4 separate regions of the Homo sapiens genome follow, and all the other regions are reported to be linked to region 4. Evidence: microRNA targets listed by miRTarBase, many of them from high-throughput screens and not tested one by one. Region 4 holds a microRNA gene; each other region holds the end of a gene's coding sequence. Distances are between the middles of the regions.

Region 1 (4,937 bases), not on the chromosome of region 4:
AGAACTCTCTCCATTTAGCCCCATCCAGCCACCTGCAGCCATCACCCAGGTCATGTTGCTGGCCAATCCACTGAAGGTGAGCAGCAAAGAACCCAGGGGTCCCAGCCTGAGGCCCCAGCTGCCCCAGATTAGGACGTCAGGCCCACCACCTCCCAGCTGGAAGTGTTTTGACTGTAGGATTGACACATCCCTTTGCTGCCTTAGGTTAAGTGTCTGAGCATGGTTGGGGGTTGCGGGGAAAAGGGACCATTCCTCTAGCACAGAGAGGGTAGCAGAATAGAGGGCGTCCTGCCAAGGGGCCGCCTGGGCTGGATCTCACTTGCTGCCCTCTGTCACAGGAGAAGGTGCGGCTTCGGTATAAGCTGACCTTCGCCCTGGGGGAGCAGCTGAGCACAGAGGTGGGCGAGGTGGACCAGTTCCCTCCTGTGGAACAGTGGGGGAACCTATGACCCCAGAGGACGCTGTGATCTCCACCTTGAAGCCAGGCAGGCTGCCCTGAGACGAGGAGGGCTCTGGTCCCGTCACTCTCCATGCCCTGACAACAGTGCTTGTAGCTTTGATGTGGAACAGGGGCCCTGGGCATTTCTGCTGAGAACCAAACTGCTGCTGTGATAACCTCTCCTTTGGCCCCTAAAAGGACCTGTTTTTATCTACCTGTGTGACTTGAAGTGGCCATATGCTGTCAGGGGTGCGGAGTGGCCCCTGACTTCACTGCTGTCCCGGGAACATGGACCCCCAGGCTTGGCGTAGGTGTTTGCTTCCTTCTACTGGCATTCACTGAAGCCACTGGGGTGGGGGGTGGGGGGTGGGAGTCTCTAAAGAGAGACTGTCATGGGTCATTCCCCACAAGAGCCACATCCTCACACCTGACAGATGCACGGCCCAAGGGGCTGCAGCCCTGTTGCAATTCCATGCTTCCCCCGCCAACCAGCTCCTGCTGCCATCCCCAGGGAGGTGGCCCAGGAAGGTGCCTGGCCCAGAATAAGGAACTGGCATACTGCAAAGTCCCCAGCCCTGCCTCTGGTGGACAGCATCGTCCTGGAATGGCCACGGAGTGATGAGTTGTGTGCTTGTCCCTGGCAGTGGCAGGCTGTGTCCTATGGACATCTTGGCAGGACATGGAATTTGGCCTCATGACAGGCCCAACTAGGGATAGGAAGGAAAATGAAGAGAGCCAGTATTTCCCCTTCTCCAGAAGCAGGTACTCAGCTTTCTGGGAAAAGCGTGCCTCCAGCCGTGGGGACAGGCCATCCTACTGACTACCTCTTGCTTGGCATGAAATAAACTGCTATCCTCCCCTTGGAATCTACCGCCACTCTACATCCTACTGCTTTGGCCTCCCTCTCCTCTCACCAGATGGCATGTGGTGTGGCACCTGTGGCTGGACACAGGAGGCCTCAGGATCACAAATGTTACACTAGACATATGTCCTAATGTGCTGCCCAGAAACCTCAACTGTTCCCCAGCTACTGAGGGGCACTGTCAGCGAGATGTTGGGTCTGGAGGTGATGAGATCGGGCCACACTTGAGCTGAGTCACCAGACCCTATTGCTTCAACAGTGCTTGGCCCCCGCCAGCTTGTCCCAGCCACTCTAGCTGCTGGATGTGATCCTGGGACATGTACTCCAAGCCTCCGTCACAAAAAAAAAATCACCAGCTGCCATAGACACGGGGGAAGCTTGCGGAGCCCAGGTGAACAAGCTCAGCAATCGGACATCTCTGGGGAAAGGAAGGTGGCACAGACCATGTTCCCTGGTTCCTCCCTGCCCCTTGCCAGGCTTCCTTATTCCTTACTATGGGAAGAGGTCATATCCCTTCCCTGCCCCTCGCTGTCTTTAGCAAGCAGGTTTCACTGCTTCATTAGAAGAGGACAAGTCAAAAGTGAATCATTTTTCACTACTTAAGGAATAAATCCAAGAGCTTTCCAGAGACTGGCTGCTGCAGCCCTGGGAATGTCTGTGGAATTACTATGTGGAAATGGAACTTTGTGTTATGCTCTAGACATTACAGTTATTTGAGTGTTACTCGTTACTGTTGAGGTCAGTGCTTCGTGGCAAATGGCTGTACTGGATATCCCAGCTCTGCTGCCCTTGTTTTGCTGCATGTTAAATAAAACCATTTTCACTGTACTTGGAATCTTCCTAGTATAGACGCCATTCACCCTGATGGAGGAAAAGGTACCACCTATGAATTCTAGATATACATGAGGACAGCCTATGATAGAACTGCCCAAGGTTTTTGTTAAAAGTGCGGGTTCCTGTACGCTTATATTTTAAGGGAACTAAATAACCAAAATGTTAAGTGTTCCAGAAGAGGTGAGGCAAGATTTCAGAAGCACAAGTATACCACCAAGCGTTCTTGTTCAGACTTCCAAGACACTGCAGTCACCACAACTTTGGGGTTTTTTTTTTTTTTTTTTTTAAACAGAGATGGAGTCTCCCTATGTTGCCCAGGTTGGTCTCAAACTCCTGGGGTTGAGGGATCCTCCCAAAGTGCTGGGATTACAGGACGTGAGCCACTGCACCCGACCTGGGGGGTGATTTCTTATCTAAGGAGGCACAGGAAGACAGTTGCGTATCAGAACATAAAACAAGGCCGGGTGTGGTGGTTCACGCCTGTAATCCCAGCACTGTGAGAGGCCAAGGCGGGCAGATCACAAGGTCAGGAGTTTGAGATCAGTCTGGCCAACACAGTGAAACCCCATCTCTACTAAAAATACAAAAAAATTAGCTGGGTATGGTGTGCACTTATAATCCCAGCTACTTGGGAGGCTGAGGCAGGAGAATCACGTGAACCCTGGAGGCGGAGGTTGCAGTGAGCTGAGATCGTGCCATTGCACTCCAGGCCAGGCAACAGTGCAAGACTCCGTCTCAAAAAAAAAAGAACATAAAACAAGCATTTTTTAATCTCTTACCACCTCAGGTTCAGACTAGACAGATAAAAAATTCCCTGGGTGGACTCTAAGAACCTACATTTGCAAAACAACATTTATTCTTTTAAAAAAATCTATATACATTGCCATACAAAGATACCACATTGAAGCAGTTCTCAGGAACCTTCCAGTGAGCCTTCTCTTATAATTGCCCGAGCAAGATTTCGTGCCAGAGAAAGTCTCAGCATTTCCACCTTGGTGGTCTCTATGTCATCATCCTGCAAAGCAGAGAGCGCCAGCATGAGCTAAGAGCAGGAAGGAGCCCTTTCACACTCCCGAAGGGTCTAGCTAATCCAAAGGTAGAGGGCACTTAACATTCATAGTAGCTTCCAGCAAATTATCGATGTAAAAGAAAGCAATACCAAAGGGCCATACTGGAAATGATGAACAGCAAAGAACAAAATGTAGAGATGAGAACACTAGAATCCCTGATTTTCTCCTAAAAGAAGGTGGTGTGTGAATTACACAGGTTAAGGGGAACAGAGGCACATGTGTCCATAGGAGCCAGTGTTTCTGGAGGGAAGGGGAAGCCTGAGATAGAGGGAGCCTTTTCCCACCTCCATGTGGAACCATCAACCCAAAAGTGAAAATGACCTGGAGCTGCTCGGTATCAGATTCTCCATGCACAGGTCTTCTTGACGTCAAGTCCTCCAGACACCGCATCAACTCATAAGTCTGTTCTGCTGAGAAAATCACCTAGGGAAGAGAGCCTGCCTTGCTTGGCTGCCCCCAGCCCTGGCCTGCATTGGTTGGGGCAGGGGCCCATGTTCGGACGTTCTTCCTTTCATACCCTTCGCAATAGTGTGCTTTGTATACGAATACCTCATTTCAAATCAAGCAGTGTTTGTTTCCTGTGTGAGTCTGGAATCCCAGAGAGGGCGCTAAGGGGAATACACGCGCACAGGCAGAACGACAAAGGAGGAAACACGCACATCGGCAACAGCTATACAACTAAGCTCTAGCAGGGACTGACAAGCAAAGAAAACCACTGCTGCTGCAACCTTCACCTGTTTCTGTTCCAAAAGGGGCAAGGCGTCTGTCAGCAGAGTCATCCAGAAAGACCGAGGGGCAATCCGAGACGTCATCAAGGACAGAAGGAGAGAAGCTGCGTCGGCAAAACGCTTCTCCCCGTACATACGGTGGAACTCGCGATACTTTCCTATGGCGAAACAAGAGCACTGAGTAACCTGCATATTCCCCCAAATTGCCCAAGTGACACCTACAAAAGTCACCCTGGCCCTAAACAGGAGAAGAAAAACCTCAGACCAGCCACTCCACAAAGCAGGAGATTTTTTTCTGTCTCCAAACTCATAGGTCCCAATGAGATGCAGACCAAGAGCATTCAAAACAGACTTGGAAGAACTCCGAAGAGCCAAATCTGGGGAAACATCAGAGTCAAAATACATAACAAGAGTCATGGATTAAAAGAGATTGACTAGGCCAGGCGTGGTGGCTCATGCCTATGCCTGTAACCCCAGCACTTTGGGAGGCCGAGTCAGGTGGATCACCTGAGGTCAGGAGTTTGAGACCAACCTGGCCAACATGGTGAAACCCCATTTCTACTAAAAATACAAAAATTAGCCGGGTATGGTGGCATGCACCTGTAGTCCCAGCTACTCAGGAGGCTGAGGAGGAAGAATGGCTTGAACCCGGGAGGTGGAGGTTGCAGTGAGCCAAGATTGTACCACTGCACTCCAGCGTGGGCGACAGAGTGAGACTCCGTCTCAAAAAAAAAAAAAAAAAGAAGAAACATGGAGGCACTGGCCAGGCACAGTAGCTCACACCTGTAATCCCAGCACTTTGGGAGGCCGAGGCGGGCGGATCACTTGAGGTCAGGAGTTCCAGACCAGCCTGACCAACATGGTGAAACCCCATCTCTACTAAAAATACAAAAATTAGGCGGGGCGCAGTGGCTCACGCCTGTAATCCCAGCACTTTGGGAGGCCGAGGCAGGCGGATCACAAGGTCAGGAGATCAAGACCATCCTGGCTAACACGGTGAAACC
Region 2 (6,170 bases), 29 Mb from region 4:
GGAATTGGTTGAGTAGGGCCAGTGCCGGGTTCCAGGGTCAGCTTCCCATTTCTTCCCCATGGGAAGATTCGGGACCCTCTGAAGGGCCCTGGTCCCTCCTGATTTGCCTAGTAGTCTTCCATTCTGGGATCTTCCAGCATAGAGAATCTCAGACTCACAGGTGGGCTCCTAGGTCACAGTGGCCATCCCTCTGCCTCCAGGCCAAATTGCCTCTGGGAGTCTTGCTGCTAAAATCCCGAGGTCCCCTCTTCCCAGAGGCTTCTGTCCCCACCCCCTAATTCATAACCTTACTTCTGCCCTATGGTAGGGGAGCTAAGAGCCCCCACATGTCTGCCCCTCCCAGACATGGCCCAGGGAAGCCTGCTGGTGGACCAGGAAGAAACTGCTGTGCAACCTGGTTCTCTCACCGCCCTGCACTTCGGGTCCCCAAACGGGCGCGTCCCATCGCTCACTGCCTTAAAGGGCCTTGCTCTGCCCCTGTGTCCGTCTCTTTTGTATCCCCCCTCTTAGCTGGTCTCTGTCCTGTTGTTGGGAGCTGCCCCTTGGACAGGTCATCCCCTGGGAACTTGCTCACCCTGTTTTCCCCGGGCCTAACTCACCATCGTCTAAAATACAGAATCCAGCGCCCCATTCCCCACAAATAATAGGTCGAAGCGCTCAGGTCTGAGATCAGGATACCCCACAACTTCTCCAGAGACCCTGGAGCCGTCTCCCCTCCCCTACCTTCCCCAAGAATGGAGTGCCCCAGACCCCTGAGGCCCACAGATCCCCGCGGCCCCCAGGGCCGCACCCAGGCAAGGCTGGAGGCGCCCCTTGGGCAGCGAGGGCCGGGGCCCTTCCCCGCCCCTTCCTTGGCTGTGGAGGGAACTGGCGGGAAGGGGGACCCCTTTACCTGACACGCCGGCGCCTCAGGTCCGGGCACAGCCTCTCCAGGGGGCGCTGTGCTCCGGGGCCCTGGAGCGGTCCCTGCAGGGCAAGCACGGAAGTGTCCAAGGTGGCGCTCCCCGCCCCTGGCCTCAGTGGGACCCCAGGCAGCGGAGGGGCTGTGGGCACTCTTGCCGATGGGGGAGGGGCCTGCGGAGAGCCCCGCCTCCTCACCACCCCAAGGAGGGGTCCCAGTCTTCCAGGTATGGGGAAGGGGCTGTTTCTCATGAGCCTGGGCTCCGGGCAGTCAAAGCTCCAGGAATGGCTTGGAGGCGCTGAGCCACCCATCTCTACCCTCTGCCTGGCCAGTGCCCTGTCCTTGGGGAAGTGACTCCCACAGGCCAGCTCCTCAAGCTGAAGAGGCTGTAAGGAGCCTTGACAGGGGTTGTGCTGGCTTCCACCCTGCCCCGGAAGCAGAGAATCTGAGAGCCTCCCTCTACCACCCAACCCATCACACCAGCTCCCCAGGGACCTGGCCAGACCAGCTGGAGGGGCCGGGCAACTTGGCCACCTTGGCGGGCAGCCCAGGGGGCCGGGCTCAGCCTCTGCTCGGGGAAACCTGGCGCGCGCGCGCGCGCACACACACACACACACACACACACACACACACCAAAAAATAAAAATAAATAAAAATAAAAAATCCCTCATCCCCAGCTCAGCCAATCACAAAAAACAGACTTTATTGAAGTATTTAGCACTAAACCCCACACAATTCCAGCTCTGTAGCTGAGGACACAGCCACTTGGCAATGGCACCAGGTGTTATACAAGACCAATAAGTTAATGTAAAGGACGCTTAGGTGTGGAGGGCCAGTGCTCAGCCGTCTCCTGGCTCAGAACAAGGCACTCTGGGCTCCAGTTAGGACACTGAGAGGCCAGGGAAACCAACATGCCCTGGAGAAAGGGGCTTAGAGACAAACCGGAAAAGCACAGCATCCAAGCAGGGTATTCACGCATGGGGGGCAGAGTAGGCCCAAAAGTTGGGGGTTGCTGATGCGGTAAGAGCACAGTGAGAGAAATGCCAGGTGCATCCCTTCAGCCTCCTGCATCCTCCCCCAGGTTCCTTTGATGGGCCATCCTGGGTCTTCCCTTGGCACCCTTGTGCAATCGGCTACATCGTTTTCTTTCCAGTAGAGAGAACTGTGCCTCTTCTAGGTCAGACACCAGAGTTCTTGGAACCTTCTGCTATATTCACAGTCTGTTCCAGTCCAGGTAACATGGGGGCAGAGAGTTCTGCACAGGTGAAGTCAGAACTCAGCTCTCCCTACCTCTCCTAGCCTCAATTCAGTTGCTTTCTCATTGAAGCAGGTCCCCTGACCTGGAAGCAAAGAAGGCCCTAGGATGAGAACCCAGGGACAGCTGGGTGGTCTTAGCACAGGCAGCTTCCAGACTTGCTCCAGTCGCTGCAGCTGGGACAATTAATGAATGCCCCCAAAGAAAATTCAGCATCTCATCAGCCCTTGGGAGTGAGTATGTCCATGTTTGTATAAATAACCACCTTCTCAGAGCAGAAGCATAGCTGGTGGGGGGAGTAGGAACTGTGACTCCCTCTCCCAACCAGAACATGCCACAAAAGTGGTGCCTTTCCAAAACCACTTGTAAAGTATTGGTTTTTGGGACTATGATGAAAAAACGTTAGAAGGGCCAGGTGCGGTGGCTCATGCCTGTAATCCCAGCACTTTGAAAGGCCAAGGCAGGTGGATCACTTGAGGTCAGGAGTTCGAGACCAGCCTGGCCAACATGATGAAACCCCATCTCTACTAAAAATAAAAAATTAGCAGGCATGGTGGTGCTTGCCTGTAATCCCAGCTACTCGGAAGGCTGAGGCAGGAGATTCGCTTGAACCCGGGAGACGGGGGTTGCAGTGAGCCGAAATCTTGCTACAGCATTCCAGCCTGGGCGACAGAGCGAGACTCCATCTCAAAAACAAACAAAATGTTAGAAGGAGCAGTGGGGCTGCAAGCCCTTGAGATGCCCAGAGGTAGCTGTCAAAGGGTGGCTGCTGTCCACTAACCACAAGCATGGACCAGCCCCCAGCCAGACCCCCTGAGGCTACAAACTGTGATGCCACTGACTCAAAGCTCAGGGGTCTGGGAGCCCACAGGGCATAGACAGGGTATAGTGACTGGGTCCCTAAAGAGGATTTAGGGGGTCAGGAAAATAGCAGGGTCTAGCAAGACAATACACCACCGGGATATACTGACCTTTGACCTACCACTTGGTGTGTGCATCACAGAGCACATTAGAAAAGGGGGAAGAGATTCTCCCCCAGCCCAGGCTGGGGTACCCAGAGACCTGGGAAATGGGGGAGAGTCATGTGCATGAGTATGTACCATGTCCAGCCTCCAGCAATAGTGGGACAGGAGGGCCAGGGGCAGTTCCCCAGGGAATTTCTTAGAACCAGAGCACAGAGCGTTGGAGAACTCCCAAGGTGGCTCACTCTGCTTCACTCGTCCCCTGCCACTTGTCTTATATAAGGAGATAGAGGCTGTCAGTCAGACAGGCAAGGCCTTAAGTCCAGTAGGCCAAACTCTGGGGGATAAAACATAATCATATCACAGGGGTATTGAGGACAATCCACATATATAAATCCTTAGGTCAGGGCTTCTGAAAAAAGTCGTGTAAAAAAAAAATAATAAAAGGTCTCAGCTCCAGGTCATCGGCCTGCGATGGGGATGGGGGAGCTGAAAGAGGCACTCAGGGGTGGGGGGGTCTCAGCCCAGCCCCTCTATGAAACAGTTTTTTCCAGCGTGGGGCGCAGAGTTACACCTGGCTGATGATCTCTCCTTTTTCAGGTACAAAGACTTGCACAGGGGCCCCATCAGGCGATCTCCGCAGCACACAAACTGTGGGCACCTGCCAGGGTCAGGAAGAAAGGACAGGTGGGTAAATGAACCAGGCAGAAAAGCGGGGACAGCAGGCACAGTTACACCATCCTTATCCCTTAGGGACACTGACCAGCAGAAGCAGCAGCAGCAGCAGGCCCTGGCACTCAGCCCCTTCCTCCCAGGATGCTCTCTGTTCTTCAGGGACCCCCTTTACACATTTTCCTCCATGTTCTTTTGGGGTGTGACAGGCGCCCTGACCTCCTCCTCCCCCACCTTTCCTGGGCTCACTTCTCATCACCCTCCCTGTCTGGCACGTTGGGATGGGCTGGGTCTATCCAGCCAAGGACAGGCCCAAGCGCGCAGAAAGGGAAAAGCACGTCAGCTGGAGGGCGCGGCCTCGGACCGGGGCCAGGGTGCTGCCAGGCCCAGGATGCCAGCTGCAGTCCAAAGAACCGTGGGTGGGGGAGGGACACGCAGCTGGGTCTGCTGGGAATCTGGGGTCTCAAAGAAGCAGCTTGTTGGTAACTTCTGGAGCACATCACCTGCAGAGCCCTCCGTACCAGGGAGAAAGAATAAAGAAAGGATTCCTGTGTGTGGCTCCCCACTTCCAGAATGAAGAAATAGGGGCCAAGGAAACCAAGGCTGCCACCCTACCCAGTGTCAGGGTGCTCTATCCTATATACTACCCTCCAGCCTGCTCCCTGGCCTCTGTGGCCCCAGATGATAATAATATCACATATCTAGCGCTTACCATGCATTGCTCTAATCATTTCAGCCTCTTGGCAGCCCTATGAGATAGGTACTCTACTACTCTCATTTCACAGGGGAGGAAACACTAGGTCCAAAGGGGTTAAGTAACTTGCCCAATCATACAGCTCGTAAGTGGCAGAACTGGGATTTGAACCTGGTGGTCTAGCTTGAGGGTGGGTGCTCTTAACTCTGATGCCACCCTTCTTCTCGGCTTGGTGGTGAGGAGGGGTGTCAGGGAGGATGCTGATGCCCAGAAAATCACAGGTTCTGGCTTCTGCAACTCATTTCCTACTCTCCCTTTGTCCTAGACCTTCAAATGGAAATCTGAGGGGCTGATTTGGACTGGACTTTTGATTATGAAGAGGCTTATCTGCTTTGTGCATCATCATTTAGGGAGAGAAAAAGTCTCAGCTATCTTCGGGGATCATCTCCACCAGTGTATATGCTCTTGAGCTAGACATGGCAGGCAAAATTAGGAGGTGCCCCAGGGAAGCCAAGAGTGCCTTCCAAAGCCAAGAGGAAATGATTTTTTGGCCTGTTCTTCCTAGACGGGGATTACCCGGCCACTAGGTTGCTGCTTTGATGCCTCTGTACCCTTGGACATACTAGAATTGCAGCCCCTCCCCAACAAAACAGCCCTCCTGCCTGGCCCCGGGGTCCCTCCAGAGCAGCCGTACCTGTGCCCGGGGTCCCAGGGCTCGTCCGAAGCCCTCTCTCCCAAGGGGCAGGCTCCTGACCCGGAAAGCTCCTTGGCGGTCCAGTGAGTGGGGGCGGGTGCTCCGGAGGCGTGCACGCTCGTGCCACCACTTGAGCTCCTCGGACACGGCGGCCTTGCTGAGCCCCCGGCCTGCCGGGCTGTCCTTCAGGGAGGGCGTCCGCACGATGCGGCTGCGGGAGGGCACCAGACGCTGGTAGCGCAGGGGAGTGCCCTCCTCCTCGTAAGCAGGGCCCGGGGCTGCGCGGCGCAGCTCCCACTCGCCAGGCGGCAGGGGGCTCTCAGCCACCACCACGTACCGCCCCGCCGGGAAATAGCCAGGCGGCAGCAGTAGCTTGGGGTGGTGGGCGACCAGCTCTCTGCTGCCGGCTGGGACCCAGGCCCCGCGGTGACGATGGGTCTTGGGAGGGGAGAGAGGCTGCAGAAAGGAGATGTCGGGGCTGCTGCTGCCCGGCGAAGTGGGGTGGGAGATGCTGGAGACGTCAGAGCCACTGTCTTCTGAGCAGGAGTGGCAGGCGGCGTGGGGCAGCGGGGGCTTGGTCGCGGGAAAGCAGGAATCTGGCACTGTCACCGTGTAGTGAGTGGGGCGGCGGCGGGGAAAGGCGCTGCGACCTCGGCCCTCAGGACCCGCCCGGAAGGAATCCACCCTGAAGAGGGAAAGAGAGGCATTCTGAGTGTGGGGGGCAGAAACTCCACACTGGGGTTGGGGCGGGAGGTGGAGTTAAAACAGGTGAGTCCTGCTCTACCTCAAGGCCCAAGCATGGCCCTCGTGCAAGGGTCTTAGGTCAAGTCTCCCAAAGCAAACCAACAAACCCTCTGCCGGGCTGCGTGGGTGCCAACGCATTCCTTCCCTGTGTGCAAAAGTGTTCCTGCTGCATTCACAAGCTTGTGATTCGTGTAAAGTGTGCTACATCAAGTAGCACATTAAGTACTTTTTTTAAAGTACTACATTAA
Region 3 (3,000 bases), not on the chromosome of region 4:
CCCAGCAGGGTATCCTCCGAGGTGCAGCAGATGTGGGCACTGACAGAGATGATCCGGGCCAGTCACACCTCCGCAAGGATCGGCCGCTTTGATGTAAGTAATCGCTTCCTTCTGCTTGGCTTGCTTTGCCCTGAGCAGATCAGACCTGATGGTCTTTTGTATTTCAGGTGGATGGCTGTTATGACCTGAACTTGCTCTCCTACACTTGAATGGTTGCTCCTAGCCAAGATGTTGGCCTTTCTGTGCCCACCCAGACTTGGTTTGGGCCACCAGAGGCTGAAGTGTATTTCCTGTGCATTCCAAGTGTTGCCTGCATGCCTGTTCTGTCTGGGCCACATTCACAGATTCAGGATTCTCAGGGGCTTACCGTGTTACTTCAGCATGAGCTCCTGGCATGGGGGTGCTCTGTCTTCGCCTGGCTGCAACTCAATTCTTCCTTCTACCCAAAAACACTCCAGTCAGTTGTACTTACTGAGAATCCCTGAGTGCCCTCTGCCCCTTCTGGCAACATGCACATTCCTGTCTTCTGCCTGCTCCCTCATGTCAGTGCAGTTGGGCTGGGCTGACCTACTAAAACCTGCTCCATGTATGGACCTGGAAGGCCATTGCTGCCATGGCACTTGGGACACTTGAGGAAGAAACAGAAACCTTATTTCTTCCTGTGTGTCCCCTAGTGGTTTTCTTTCCATTTGTGTTATGCCACAGAGAGAAATTTCCTGTCTGAACTCTTCTGCTGCCTGCCTAGGAAGGAAACCTGAAGATTTGGGCAGCCTGAGTCTCTTGGTTTCTGAGCTGGCTCCTGAATATATGTTCAAGTGGGTGTGCCCATAGGGCCTGGGCACGTGTCTCTAGCAAAACCAGGGCCTGAGCATAAGAACTGGGACCCTTCTAGGCAGGGTGCAGTGGCTCACGCCTGTAATCCCAGCACTTTGGGAGGCCCAGGCAGGCGGATCACCTGAGGTCAGGAGTTCAAGACCAGCCTGACCAACCTGGAGAAACCCCGTCTCTACTAAAAATACAAAAAATTAGCTGGGCGTGGTGGTAGGCACCTGTAATCCCAGCTACTTGGGAGGCTGAGGCAGGAGAATCTCTTGAACCCGGGAAGTGGAGGTTGCGGACCTGAGATCATGCCATTGCACTCCAGCCTGGGCAAGAAGAGCGAAACTCCATCTTAAACAAACAAACAAAAAAAAAAGAACTGGGACCCTTCTGCCATCTGACATAGCCCAAAGCACATCTCTATCCTTTCTCCCAGTTGCCCCTCTCCTTTTTTGTTGTTTTTTTTGAGGTTGAGTTTTGCTCTTGTTGCCCAGGCTGGAGTGCAATAGTGCAATCTTGGCTAACTGCAACCTCCGCCTCCCAGGTTCAAGCAATTCTCCTGCCTCAGTCTCCCGAGTAGCTGGGATTACAGTCATGCATCACCATGCCTGGCTAATTTTGTATTTGTAGTAGAGATGGGGTTTCTCCATGTTGGTCAGGCTGGTCTCAAACACCTGACCTCAGGTGATCTGCCTGCCTTGGCCTTCCAAAGTGCTGGGATTACAGGCATGAGCCACCGCGCCCGCCCTGCCCCTTTCCAAGAGATATGCTCAGCATAATGAGAGATCAACCGTGGTGGGGAGTGGGTCCAAGTAAGGGTTCTCATTGTTGCCTTTTAAGAGGCCTAAGTCCTGCATTAACTCAGTCCAACCATTAAGTGATGCAGGCTGCTCTTCCCTCATGTGAGAAAAACCTGTTTCCCTCTGGTTCTTCCTGGCTTTGCACCTGGTGGCTATTACAAAGCAGTACTGCAGTATGTCTTGGACCTGGAAAGTTGGACATGTGTGTGGCTCAACAGTTTTCTCGGGGGAGTTCAGTGACCTTTTGGTGGCCACCCTCTGTTCTCACCTGTGAGTTCTTGCAGGTGGCGACTTCATCTGCAAGGTCACTTACATAGCCCCACTCAGCTGCTTCGGAAAGCGTGACGAAGCAGTAGTCCTCAGTGTGTGTGTAAGTGAAGAGGACCTTGTGGTAGCAGGGACCATGCTTCATTCGTGGCTGTGTCCCCATCTGAGGGCCTGGTATGCAGTAAGATCAATAAATACTTGTGGAATGCATGACTGCTGGCTGCCTGTGTCTGCCTGGTGGGAGAGCTGTGGAACTAGGGGTCCACATGAGGACAGACTACTGTGGTGCTGCCTACCTGCCAGGCTGGCCCACCTTCCCCACCCCCACTTGACCTTACTCTCTTGAGGTCCTAAAGGTATGATTCAGACCTTTCAGCCCTTTCCAGAACTTTGACCCTCTGGAGACAGGGCGGTTCTGCAGGGGGCGGTCTAGCCCCTAGCTTTGTTCTGGGCAGCCCAATCAGCTCTGGATTGCCCGAGCTGCCCTGAAGAGTCAGCCGAAAGAGCTGGAGGCTTCTTCCCTGTGGTTGCGGGTTCCTGCATTCTCTGCTCTAAATCCCAGCCTGCCCTTGGGGCTGCCCACGCCCCCTTCAGATCCTTTGCTCCGGAGAGAGACCTGTCCGAGCAGAGGCCTGGACTACATCTCCCGGCGTGCCTGGCAGTGTGGTGGCCTCTGTGCGCCGTCTGCACTCGTTGCAGGCGACGATGCAGAGGGCTGTAAGTGTGGTGGCCCGTCTGGGCTTTCGCCTGCAGGCATTCCCCCCGGCCTTGTGTCGTCCACTTAGTTGCGCACAGGTGGGATAGAGGGTGCTGATCTTGGAGGGTGGGGGAGGGAAGCGGCTGGGGGCTAGGGCCCTGGTGGCACTAAGCCCAGCCGCCCACAGGAGGTGCTCCGCAGGACACCGCTCTATGACTTCCACCTGGCCCACGGCGGGAAAATGGTGGCGTTTGCGGGTTGGAGTCTGCCAGTGCAGTACCGGGACAGTCACACTGACTCGCACCTGCACACACGCCAGCACTGCTCGCTCTTTGACGTGTCTCATATGCTGCAGGTGAGCCAGGGGAGCACACTGGCCATCTGATCAGGCCTTCCTCCCTGTTTACAGTGGTCCAC
Region 4 (3,798 bases):
AGCTGAATGAAAAATAGTTTGCTTTAGTTAAGAATACATACATAAAGTGTTTAATTGTTAAATGTGAAAAAAGTTTTGAGTAGCCTTGTGTTACATTTTTTAAGCTTGACCAGAATCTAAGAAAGATGAAAATTAATTTCAAATACTGAAGCTAAAACATGTTAATGAACTAAATAAAAGTTGACACATTTCTAATTTTATCCATCTTCCCACCTTTTACCCTTAAGTATTTAAAGTATTCATAGACAAAAGCCATCCCTTATCATTTCACTCCAGTTAACAGTGCATAAACTGAAGTTTGGATATTTTCTCAAAAGATGTGTCAAAATATACATTTCAAGTGCATTAACCACTTTCCTTATGCTTCTGAAGATAAATGAATTGCCTGAACATCTCAAGATCTTGAAAGTTTATAGTGATGGAAGCATAGGTTGCAAGTGAATGTGTTGGCCTTGTAAATTCTACTCCTAGAACTGTAGCATAAGCACCTTCTTAATTAAAGAATGACGCAGTCATAAATTTATGTATACCATGACGCGTGGAAGTATCAAAAATTTCAACTTTCCATATGTCAAAAGAGGAGAAACTATTATTTTAATATAGTTGAACACTAGTTGGAAATAGTAGTCTTTTCACTGTGTTTTGCCCAGACCCAGACTGGCAGAGTTAACCCAGACTGGCAGAGTTAACTCAAAGCACTTGATCCTTTGGAATACTCTTTTTCTCCCTTTTCTTTTCTCTGTCTTTCCACCCTATCCCCTTCCAAAAAAAAAAAAAAAAAAAAAAAATCATGACATAGAAAACCATACTTAGTTTATGGACAAGAATTCTTAGAATAATTTATTCTTTGTTAAGCATCAGACTGAAGTTATATTGTTTTGTTATATTGAGTTTTTATATCAATATAGGGTGCTGCAAAGCTGTGTACAATAAAGGTCAAGGGTAGTGATTTGCTGACAACAATTAGGAAAAGAGAACTATAGAATGCACAGGAACATTTTCAGAAATGGGTTTTATTATATTTCATAGGCACCACTCACTTTACTTTTGGTGGGTTTTAATACTTGAATCAAAATAAAATAATACATGAGTTAAGTATTAAACCAACAGATTAAAACCCCAGGCCCCCGAGCCCCTCATTTTGGTTGTAGCTCTTGGTGTAGATGCTATGGTGTGAGGGCTGCTTTCTTTCAATGGCTGGTTGTCATTCAGGCTGGGTTGTCATGTGACTGCCTGTCTGTGCCTGCTGTACAGGTGAGCGGATGTTCTGCACAGCAAGTGTAGACAGGCAGACACATGACAACTCTGTCCAGCCAGGCCCTTGGTTCCTTCAGGTTTCCTTTGCTCATAGACAGATACAATCAGCCTGTTTTCCAGATTTGGTGATTTTGGAGAGTAAGGGGAAAGGGAGAAAAATACACAATATAATTAAACATTAAAACATTATGGAACTAAAAACAAGTTAGACTTTTGACTTTATTCAGAAAGTACATTTATACATTTGTTCCAAATGTGCTAACATGGATAATTTGCGTAACAGAAAACTCACATTAAAATTTTAAGGAAAAAAAGAGATTAAACACAAGGTTTATTCTTAAGTCCAATTCATATTATTACTGGCCCACATGTAGTCAGAGTTCAGCGTAATTGAACCAGATGTTTTTCCTCTTTGCAAAAAACTGCATATTTTAATACTGAAGTTAAAGATAAAAACTATGTTTATGCATGTTTCTTTTAGTAGATAAGTACCATAACCTTGTCCATGAAAAAGAAAATTATCATTTACATGGAAACAGCAGCCCTTTTCAAAATAATTAATGAGCCTAATTTATTTGGCAACCCAAGTTGCTGACTTTGGTATTTGATGCTCTGATAATAGGATCCTACAAGGGAATATGTTTTTACCAATTATATGTGAAACAACAGGAACCTATTTAAATGTCTCATTTTCCTTTTAAATGCAAAGTTTATAACTGTGGATGTGAAATCAAATTAAAGGCAGTTGTGAGCTTAAGTTATCCACCTCTTAATTAACTATAGGGCCATGCTGTGAATCAAAAGGGTACAAACTGGAAGGCTGTTACTCACAGTGATGCTCAGAATGTGTTTTGGATATAGTTAGTGCAATATAGTTACAAAATAGTACTTAAGAAAAGGCAGAAAAGGCAAATTCATTTCATATCCAAAAAATTAAAACCAGATCCTTTGAAAATTTTTCTTATAATTTATATGAGCTAATAGTGTTAAATATGCAGATATAAAATTTAATTCTGGTGAGTTGAGAGTAATTCTATTTTAATATCAATTATCAATTCACATCTTTAGAAGTATTAAGCAAATTCCCCTCCCCTTTTAAAAACAAAAATATCCAAATAGTCAAAATTCCAGTAAGTAGGACTTCTTAAAAAACACAGCACCAAAAAAACACAGTATTGTCCAAGGATTGTATAATTAGACATTTTCTCAAAGAACTTTAAGAAAAACAAACAGTTTGTGATTTATCTTTAATTGTAAAATTCTGAGAAAATAGCAAATAGAAACTTAATGGAAAGCAAAATAGTTTTAGATACTGAGAAAATTACAATTTTCTACAAATCTGGACTTTTATGCAGTGATTAGGTAAGGTAATGTTTTAACAAAAGCTAATAAGTGCCATTTTCTGTGTATTTATGTAATTTCAAGAAAACAAATTTCCGATTCTGTTTCGGCCATCACTTTCGAGTAAAGGAACTTTTTTTTTTTCTTGACAGAATCAAAAACATGAGTAAACTTGGCTGTTATTTAAATAATTACAAGGTTAGAGTATGCCAAAAACCAGTGCCTTAAAATACTATTGTGTTATTGTTGCTGCATTCAGTGCAACAGAAAGTAATTATAGAGTGATTCACTTACAAAGAGTATATTGGTGGAAATTAAAAATTACTATAATTCTTTATAACTTTTCCTCTCTCTCCCATAAATAATTTGATCCAGTTAACTCTGCTCAATTAAAGGAATGATGCATGCAACCTGAAAAAATAAAAAGAAATATTTGTGAGTTTGTATGTTATGCTTTAATATAAAACAGTTTTATTAAGGCAAGATATAAAAATTTTTTGAGCCAGAAAAACCACAACAGTTTTTCAGGGGAAAAAAAAAATCTTGCTGAAAACAATTGTTCTATTCATAAGGCTTTTGGACAATTTATGTTTCTGATAGATTTTTAAAACACACTTACAGTAACTATGTGACATATGCACACTTCATTGTTATGTTGAACCTGCCCCTAAACTTGTTAAAAAGATGAAAGACTGAAAACCATATTGACCTTTTTTTAATCTCCCAAATTATAGGTTGAATATTAGTTTATTATTACTTAAAATACTAGCTAAAACATAAAAGAGCTATTTGTATTATTATCATACCATGTAATTTTTAGTGTGGTTATTACACCTTGTTTTCTTTTTGTCTTTTATTTCTTAAGGAAAAAAATGTAAGAAAAGAATTGTCTTCTAAGTCTTCTGTAGTGAAATTAAACCAAAGCAACTCCAGGAAACTGGCTGTCACGCTAAGTCAAAAAATTCAAAATGAAGATTTAATTATTTTTCCTAATTTACTTCGTTATCTCTAACTATTAAAACTGATAAAAATTATTTGTAAGAGACCTTTGAAAATGAGTAAATATTTATTTCTACTTAATTTACAGAACATGAAAGTAAGAAGGGATTTGAAGTAAGAAAGTTTCTATCTTAACTCAGGAATTTCCTGTCTCAGGTTAAAGCCTGACCTTCTAGTTATTTTAAGCCAGGATTTCTGAGT

Evidence for each region. The annotated mature microRNA hsa-miR-214-5p reads UGCCUGUCUACACUUGCUGUGC and lies in region 4 at 1,270-1,291, opposite strand. An mRNA with a match to its seed (bases 2 to 7 or 8) in the 3' UTR can be bound and repressed. Matches are read on the target gene's strand: a 7mer-m8 pairs with bases 2 to 8, a 7mer-A1 pairs with bases 2 to 7 and ends in A, and an 8mer does both.
Region 1: the mRNA of GGA3 is a reported target of hsa-miR-214-5p. Seed matches in the 3' UTR shown: 7mer-m8 at 1,136-1,142 and 7mer-m8 at 1,242-1,248.
Region 2: the mRNA of INAVA is a reported target of hsa-miR-214-5p. Seed matches in the 3' UTR shown: 7mer-A1 at 2,718-2,724 and 7mer-A1 at 2,585-2,591.
Region 3: miRTarBase lists NICN1 as a target of hsa-miR-214-5p. Seed matches in the 3' UTR shown: 7mer-A1 at 1,542-1,548.

The regions. Positions count from the first base shown.
Region 1 is chr17:75,233,791-75,238,727 of GRCh38, reverse strand. It overlaps GGA3 (golgi associated, gamma adaptin ear containing, ARF binding protein 3), which reads left to right. Exons shown (of 17, transcript NM_138619.4): 16 at 1-76; 17 at 339-2,129. The coding sequence ends at 449. NUP85 (nucleoporin 85) reads right to left here. Exons shown (of 19, transcript NM_024844.5): 17 at 3,940-4,091; 18 at 3,527-3,628; 19 at 2,970-3,150. The coding sequence ends at 3,049. Among named protein-coding and RNA genes, the nearest start is that of GGA3, 25 kb to the left of the region's middle. RefSeq lists a silencer at 3,914-4,077.
Region 2 is chr1:200,911,146-200,917,315 of GRCh38, reverse strand. It overlaps INAVA (innate immunity activator), which reads right to left. Exons shown (of 10, transcript NM_001142569.3): 9 at 5,179-5,863; 10 at 1,574-3,779. The coding sequence ends at 3,687. Among named protein-coding and RNA genes, the nearest start is that of INAVA, 19 kb to the right of the region's middle.
Region 3 is chr3:49,422,042-49,425,041 of GRCh38, reverse strand. It overlaps NICN1 (nicolin 1, tubulin polyglutamylase complex subunit), which reads left to right. Exons shown (of 6, transcript NM_032316.3): 5 at 1-93; 6 at 168-2,709. The coding sequence ends at 209. AMT (aminomethyltransferase) reads left to right here and starts at 2,569. Exons shown (of 9, transcript NM_000481.4): 1 at 2,569-2,681; 2 at 2,771-2,938. The coding sequence starts at 2,592. RefSeq lists enhancers at 2,188-2,941, 2,942-3,000.
Region 4 is chr1:172,137,588-172,141,385 of GRCh38, forward strand. It overlaps MIR214 (microRNA 214), which reads right to left and starts at 1,320; the gene lies at 1,211-1,320. All of the region lies in intron 14 of DNM3 (dynamin 3), which reads left to right. It overlaps DNM3OS (DNM3 opposite strand/antisense RNA), which reads right to left. Exons shown (of 4, transcript NR_103486.1): 4 at 1-3,009. It overlaps MIR3120 (microRNA 3120), which reads left to right and starts at 1,221; the gene lies at 1,221-1,301.